Linked DNA regions of Homo sapiens. The protein of the gene in region 1 interacts with the protein of each later gene in a pairwise test. Each region holds a gene or a part of one and is shown in the gene's direction. Other genes may lie near its edges.

Region 1 (3,653 bases):
GCCTCCCCAGTAGCTGGGATTACAGGCGCCTGCCACCACGCCTGACTAATTTTTGTATTTTTAGTAGAGGCAGGGTTTCACCATCTTGGCCAGGCTGGTCTTGAACTCCTGACCTCGTGATCCACCTGCCTCGGCCTCCCAAAGTGCTGGGATTACAGGCATGAGCCACCACGCCCGGCCTGTATTTTTAGTAGAGACGGAGTTTCACCATGTTGGCAAGGCTGGTCTCGAACTCCTGACCTCAAGCAATCTGCCCACCTCCGCCTCCCAAAGTGCTGAGATTACAGGTGTGCGCCACCGTGGCTGGCCTATATTCATTTTTCAAAAATTTTCTAGAGTTTTACATTTTCATTGCTTTGTACTTTTACTTTGTCTTATTTTACTTTTTCACCATGTGTTTTTCAAAGCTGAAGGTATATTTGATGTGATTATTATAAATCACTTGTCAGGAAGACTTGACTTAATGAATACAGATACAGTTCATTTTTAAAATCATGGTTTAATAATTTTTAGAATTTACCTTTATAATATAGAAAAATACCAAATGTTCTTTATCTGCACTAGAAAATTAAATGATTATTTCATTAATAAGTAAAATTGAAGGGAACTTTTGAAATCACTGAGCAGTTAACAAATTCTCTATAAATACTGTGATGTTAGGAAGACAACAAGGCTAAATATGACATTTAAAGATTTAAGGAAACTTTATGTCTGGCTGATCCTCACCTTAAACTCTAATGAAGATAGAATTTATAGTCTTCCCTTCAAAACTGATTCCATATGCTGACTTTGTTTTGGTGACATTACCATGCTTTCAATTACCCAGACACAAACTTTGGTTTTATCTCTATGCGTGTAACAATATTGGCTGATTTTTGCCAGCCATTTTTATCTTTGAACTACTCACTAGCCTTTAATTGGGTTTTTTGCTTGATTTTTCTCTCTACTTAGTATGTCTTCCTAAATCTTAGAATTATGCTTCAAACACATCCTTCACTTTTCGGAAACCAGTGATAACTCTCTGTTATCTTCAGAGTATAGTTCAGAATTCATAGCCTAATAACAGTCTGCTCAAACCTGTTTTTCTGGGGCCAGCACTATTTCTTTCTTTTTTTTTAATCAGTGCCAGCACTATTTCTTTATAGGAGCTGTCCACTCTAACCAAACCAATCTCTGATTCTTATTTACTCTTTGTATTTTTGTACCTTCGTATCATTCCTTTTTCTTTCTTTCTTTCTTTTTTTTTTTTTGAGACAGAGTCTCGCTCTGTTGCCCAGGCTGGAGTGCAATGGTGCGATCTCGGCTCCCCGTAACCTCTGCCTCCCGGGTTCAAGCGATTCTCCTACCTCAGCCTCCCTAGTAGCTGGGACTACAGGCATGCGCCACCATGCCTGGCTAATTTTGTATTTTTAGTAGAGACGGGGTTTCTCCGTGTTGGTCAGGCCAGTCTTAAACTCCTCACTTCAGGTGATCTACACATCTCAGCCTGCCAAAGTGCTGGGATTACAGGTGTGAGCCACTGTGCCTGGCCTCTTTCTTTCTTCTTTTTTTTTTTCTTTGAGGCGTCTCACTCTGTCACCCAGGCTGGAGTGCAGTGGCACCATCTTGGCTCACTGCAACCTCCGTCTCCTTGGTTCAAGTGATTCTCCTGTGTCAGTCTTCCGAGTAGCTAGGATTACAGGTGCATGCCACCACGCCTGGCTAATTTTGTATTTTTAGTAGAGATGGGGTTTCACCATGTTGGCCAGGCTGGTCTTGAACTCCCGACCTCAGGTGATCCACATGCGTCGGCTTCCCAAAGTGTTGGGATTACAGGCGTGAGCCACTGTGCCCGTCCAGTTTGCCTAGTCTTTAAAATTTTTTTTTTCTCCTAAATTACCAAGTAGCAAATGAAGTAAAATTTGTTGAATTTTCGCTTTTGGTCCTTTGGTGCAGTCTTCCAAATGTTTTTCCTGTTCCCTATGTTGCTTGCTTTTCTTTCTTTCTTTCTTTCTTTCTTTCTTTCTTTCTTTCTTTCTTTCTTTCTTTCTTTCTTTCTTTCTTTGTTTCTTTCTTTCCTTCCTTCCTTCCTTCCTTCCTTCCTTCCTTCCTTCCTTCCTTCCTTCTTTCTTTCTTTTCTTTCTTTTCCCTTCCTTCCTTCCTTCCTTCCGTCCATCCATCCGTCTGTCCGTCCGTCTGTCTCTCTCTCTCTTTCTTTCTTTCTTCTTTCTTTTTTGACAGGATCTCGCTCTGTTGCTCAGGCTGGAGTACAGTGGCCTGATCACAGCTCCTCATTGTAACTTGAACCTCCCAAAGGCCAGGATTACAGGTGTGCATCAATGTCTGGCTAATTTTTTTTTTTTTTTTTTTTTGTAGAGATAGGGTCTCACTGTGTTGTTCAGACTGGTTTTGAATTCCTGGCCTCAAACGATCCTCCCACCTTGGCTTCTCAACGTGCTGGGATTATAGGGGTGAGCCACTGTGCCTGGTCTGTTGCTTTCCTTTAAACCCATACCCCTTATTATTTTAGTATTCCCTTGGTTTTTAATGTTGTGTGGACTTGAATCATAGAATTATAGAGCATTATTGCTGGAATGTTGGAATCCAACCTTGTGTTTTACAGATAAGGAAACTGAAATACAAATAGACTAGATGCACCAAAATTCAAACATTTAGTGATGGGGGCAGAACAAAGACTCAACCCTTGATCTTCTGACGCAAGTTCTGTGTGTTTATGAAACCATACTACTTCTCATCTCTTGTAATTTTGCCTTATTTGCCTCACATTATTTTGCATTTTGTGTATTTATGCCTTCTCATAGATTGAAAACTTCAGGGCAGGGGAACCTTCATATTTACATTGTAAATTTTTTTTTTTTTGAGACAGAGTTTCGCAGTTTTTGCCCTGGCTGGAGTGCAGCAGCATGATCTCGGCTCACTGCAACCTCCGCCTCTCGGGTTCAAGCAATTCTCTTGCCTCAGCCTCCTGAGGAGCTGGGATCACAGGCACCTGCCACCACACCTGGCTAATTTTGTATTTTTAGTAGAGATGGGTTTCACCATGTTGGCCAGGCTGGTCTCAAACTCCTGACCTCAGGTGATCCGCTCACCTTGGCTTCCCAAAGTTCTGGAATTACAGGCATGAGCCACCATGCCCAGCCTTACATTGTAAATTATTTAAACAATGATATAAAGTCTATATACAGTTTCTTTCCCCTATACTTGTTAGGTGTATTAACACCATTAACAAAAATAATATTGTCATGTTTACCATTGAGTTTTTTTTTTCTTGAGACGGAGTCCTGCTCTGTCACTCAGGATGGAGTGCAGTGGGGCAATCTCGGATCACTGTACCCTCTGCATCCCAGGTTCAAGGGATTCTCCTGCCTCAGCCTCCTAAGTAGCTGGAATTACAGGTGCCTGCCACCATGCCTGGCTAATTTTTGTATTTTTAGCAGAGACAGGGTTTCACCATGTTGGCCAGGCTGATCTCCAACTCCTAACTTCAGTTAATCAGCCTGCTTTGGCCTCCCAAAGTGCTGGGATTACAGGGATGAGCCACCGCACCTGGCCAGTGTTTACCATTGAATTCTATCATCTGCTAAAAAATGAATCTCTTACAGGTTTTACTGCTGCAATTTAGTTTGTCTTTTCGAATCTCTTGATAATGCCAA
Region 2 (3,653 bases), on another chromosome or scaffold:
AAAATTTTTATACACACAGATATATACACATGCATGTGCATGCACAAACACACACACACACATACACACACACCCTCATGTAGCACAGATATCTATCAGCAGAATAATCTGTGGATGCCTTTGGTTGTGTGAGGTGTCCCTTCCAGTCATTCACTTGTCTGGTTAGAGTTTAGGAACCTGAAAAATGACCAACTTTTCTAGTAAATACTATTAACTCATTAATAAAACTAAATTTTCTTCTAGATTACAGATCTCCATTTATTGCTTCTGTTAGTGACCAACATGGAGTCGTGTACATTACTGAGAACAAAAACAAAACTGTGGTGATTCCATGTCTCGGGTCCATTTCAAATCTCAACGTGTCACTTTGTGCAGTAAGTTGCATCTCCTCCAATCGTCTCTTAAGTTTTTATAATTTTAAGCTAATATTAAGATGGGTAACCTGTTTATAATATTCACAATGAGTTTTAAGGATCCTTTAGGAAGGGTCAAATGCAATGAATAAAACTAATTAGTATTCTTAAAAATAAGATGAATTCTTCAGTGATCATTGTACATGGCTCTCATTTTTGGTACTGGATTAAATATTTGATATGTCTTTTTATTACCCAGAGATACCCAGAAAAGAGATTTGTTCCTGATGGTAACAGAATTTCCTGGGACAGCAAGAAGGGCTTTACTATTCCCAGCTACATGATCAGCTATGCTGGCATGGTCTTCTGTGAAGCAAAAATTAATGATGAAAGTTACCAGTCTATTATGTACATAGTTGTCGTTGTAGGTAAGAGGACATTTCCTTTCCATATCATTAATAACATATCCTTGTATTAAGATCTTGGAGATAACAACATAGAGTGAAGAAGGATATTGAAAAGTATAGGAACTCAGGATATGGTGTTGGGCAATTCATCTGCTCTTCTCTACCAAATAAACCCATGTGCAATTGAGGTTGTCTCTTTTCTTGCCAAGATTAAGGAAGAAAAAGAAAACTTTTTAAAAAAAGGATGAAAGCGAATGGTATTACTCGAGCACATTTTATGAAGAATTCAATGTTCAGAGCATTGCTTGCTATCAATTATTTCAATTATGACTATTTTATGGAAACTTCAGCAATTTGCTAAAGCTGGCCCTACTGGCCTAGGGCTACTGACCACTGAAAGTTTACTACTTTTCTGTCCACTGGGTTACAACATCTTTGAGATCTGTGAAGGTAGTGCTTTGTAAACCTCTGTTGGCCATTTTCCTGGGAGCTACCAAGTATTGGTGAGGCCTGCAGGGAAAAACAATGTGGCATGTTTTAAAGTTGCATTACTTTAAAAAATAAATCTGTGCAAAGTTATAGGCTTATTTGCTCTCTCATGTTCTGTTTTTTCAATTTACTTGCTCTAGGGTATAGGATTTATGATGTGGTTCTGAGTCCGTCTCATGGAATTGAACTATCTGTTGGAGAAAAGCTTGTCTTAAATTGTACAGCAAGAACTGAACTAAATGTGGGGATTGACTTCAACTGGGAATACCCTTCTTCGAAGGTAACGCTAATGATTCAAAGCCAGACCTCCAAATACTTAGATAATAAGCCCCAGTGAAGTTTGCTTGAGAGATAGGGGCCTCTTTGGCCAGATAAAATGTAAGAGCCTTAAACACACACACATACACACCCACTCACACACACATACACACACACACAATTTAAGGGAATTGCAGAACAGATAGCACCCACCAAAAGGTGAAATACCAGGAATTTTGTCCTATTCTGCAATAGCCAGGCTATGAATATTAGTTTTCTCTAGGTGATTACATCTTTCCACATTATGTCATTTCTCTGTTCTCCAAAGTTTTTGATCTACATTCCTTTTAAGGGAATTTCTCTTTAAGAGGTGGCATGAGATACACTGCTCCTTAAACAGTGGTCACATTTACTTGTGTTTCTGCAGTTTATATCCATCTCACTTTCACCACGTGAGGTTTTAAAAATCCTAATTCAGTTGGTTCCATTTATTTCTCCTGAAACAAAATATATTTGTTGTCTGCATGAGGTTAAAAGTTCTGGTGTCCCTGTTTTTAGCATTAAATAATGTTTACCAAAGCCCAGATTTAATTCTGTGTGTTACTAGAAGTTATTGGGTAATGTTATATGCTGTGCTTTGGAAGTTCAGTCAACTCTTTTTTTCAGCATCAGCATAAGAAACTTGTAAACCGAGACCTAAAAACCCAGTCTGGGAGTGAGATGAAGAAATTTTTGAGCACCTTAACTATAGATGGTGTAACCCGGAGTGACCAAGGATTGTACACCTGTGCAGCATCCAGTGGGCTGATGACCAAGAAGAACAGCACATTTGTCAGGGTCCATGGTAAGCTATGGTCTTGGAAATTATTCTGTGCCTTGACAAGTGAGATAATTTAAATAAATTTAGGTCACTTAGTGATTCCTATTTTGTTCATTCAGAAGATAGTTTCTAGTTTTTCTTGTTAGGGAGGCCACATGACCTAGAGGTCAAGAGCATAGCTTTGTAGTCAGGAACTTGGGTTCAAACCTCAACTTTAAAGATGAGATGTGCTGATATACAGTAAGAGTTCATTTAGTATTACTTATTATAGTTATTGCTGCTATTAGGATTGTTACTATGATAAATAGTATTAGCTAAGGTAGTTTTTAAATTTTCATTTTATTGCAAGGCTGAGAGGCCTACTTGAATAAGCATGAGCTTTGCAAACTGGGGAAACATTTAGCAATATACAGTTGACCTGTGAGCAACTCAGGGATTGGGGGAACTCAGGGGAGTTCCCCTAACTTTCCCTCCTCTGCAGTCAAAAATCCATGTATAGGCCGGGCGCGGTGGCTCACGCCTGTAATCCCAACACTTTGGGAGTCTGAGGTGGGTGGATCACCTGAGATCAGGAGTTCGAAACCAGCCTGGTCAACATGGTGGAACCCCATCTCTACTAAAAATCCAAAAAATTAGCCTGGTGTGGTGGTGGGAGCTTGTAATCCCAGCTACTCAGGAGGCTGAGGCAGGAGAATTGCTTGAACCCAGGAGGTGGAGGTTGCAGTGAGCCAAGATCGTGCCATTGTACCCCAGCCTGGGCAACAAGAGTGAAACTCCTTCTCAAAAAAAAAAAAAAAAAAAAAATCAAGGTATAACTTTTGACTTCCACAAAACATAACTAATGGCCTACTGTTGACTGGAAGCCCTACTGATAACATAAACAGTCAATTAACACATATTTTATATGTTATATGTATTATATACTGTATTCTTCCAATAAAGCTAGAGAAAAGAAAATGTTATTAAGAAAATTGTAAGGAAGAGAAAATATATTTACTATTCATTAAGTGTAAGTGGATCATCATAAAGGTCTTCATCCTTGTCTTCACGTTGAGTAGGCTGAGGAAAAGGGGGAAGAGGAGGGGGTGGTTTTGCTGTCTCAGGGGTGGCAGAGGTGGAAGAAAATCTGCTTATAAGTGGACTCATGTAGTTCAAGTTTGTGTTATTTAAGGGTCAACTGTAATTGAACTGGAATTAAATTGAACTGGCCTTGAGAAAATCACCTTAATTTTTTGTTTATTCTCTTTCATTTACATAAATGTCTGAGTTTACATGGTAATTTGTGTGGCATCCTACTTATAAGCCTTGGAAAGGATTTTGGAGTTT

Evidence for each region. The genes of interacting proteins can lie anywhere in the genome.
Region 2: the proteins of NCK1 (region 1) and KDR interact in binary tests that used the Homo sapiens proteins (3 or more experiments, as listed by UniProt).

Annotation. Positions count from the first base shown.
Region 1 is NC_000003.12:136,865,076-136,868,728, forward strand, and holds part of NCK1 (SH2/SH3 adapter protein NCK1), read left to right. Parts: intron 1-3,653. UniProt on the Homo sapiens protein: Adapter protein which associates with tyrosine-phosphorylated growth factor receptors, such as KDR and PDGFRB, or their cellular substrates. Maintains low levels of EIF2S1 phosphorylation by promoting its dephosphorylation by PP1.
Region 2 is NC_000004.12:55,112,002-55,115,654, reverse strand, and holds part of KDR (vascular endothelial growth factor receptor 2 precursor), read left to right. Parts: intron 1-243; coding exon 244-374; intron 375-612; coding exon 613-781; intron 782-1,389; coding exon 1,390-1,529; intron 1,530-2,173; coding exon 2,174-2,351; intron 2,352-3,653. UniProt on the Homo sapiens protein: Tyrosine-protein kinase that acts as a cell-surface receptor for VEGFA, VEGFC and VEGFD. Plays an essential role in the regulation of angiogenesis, vascular development, vascular permeability, and embryonic hematopoiesis.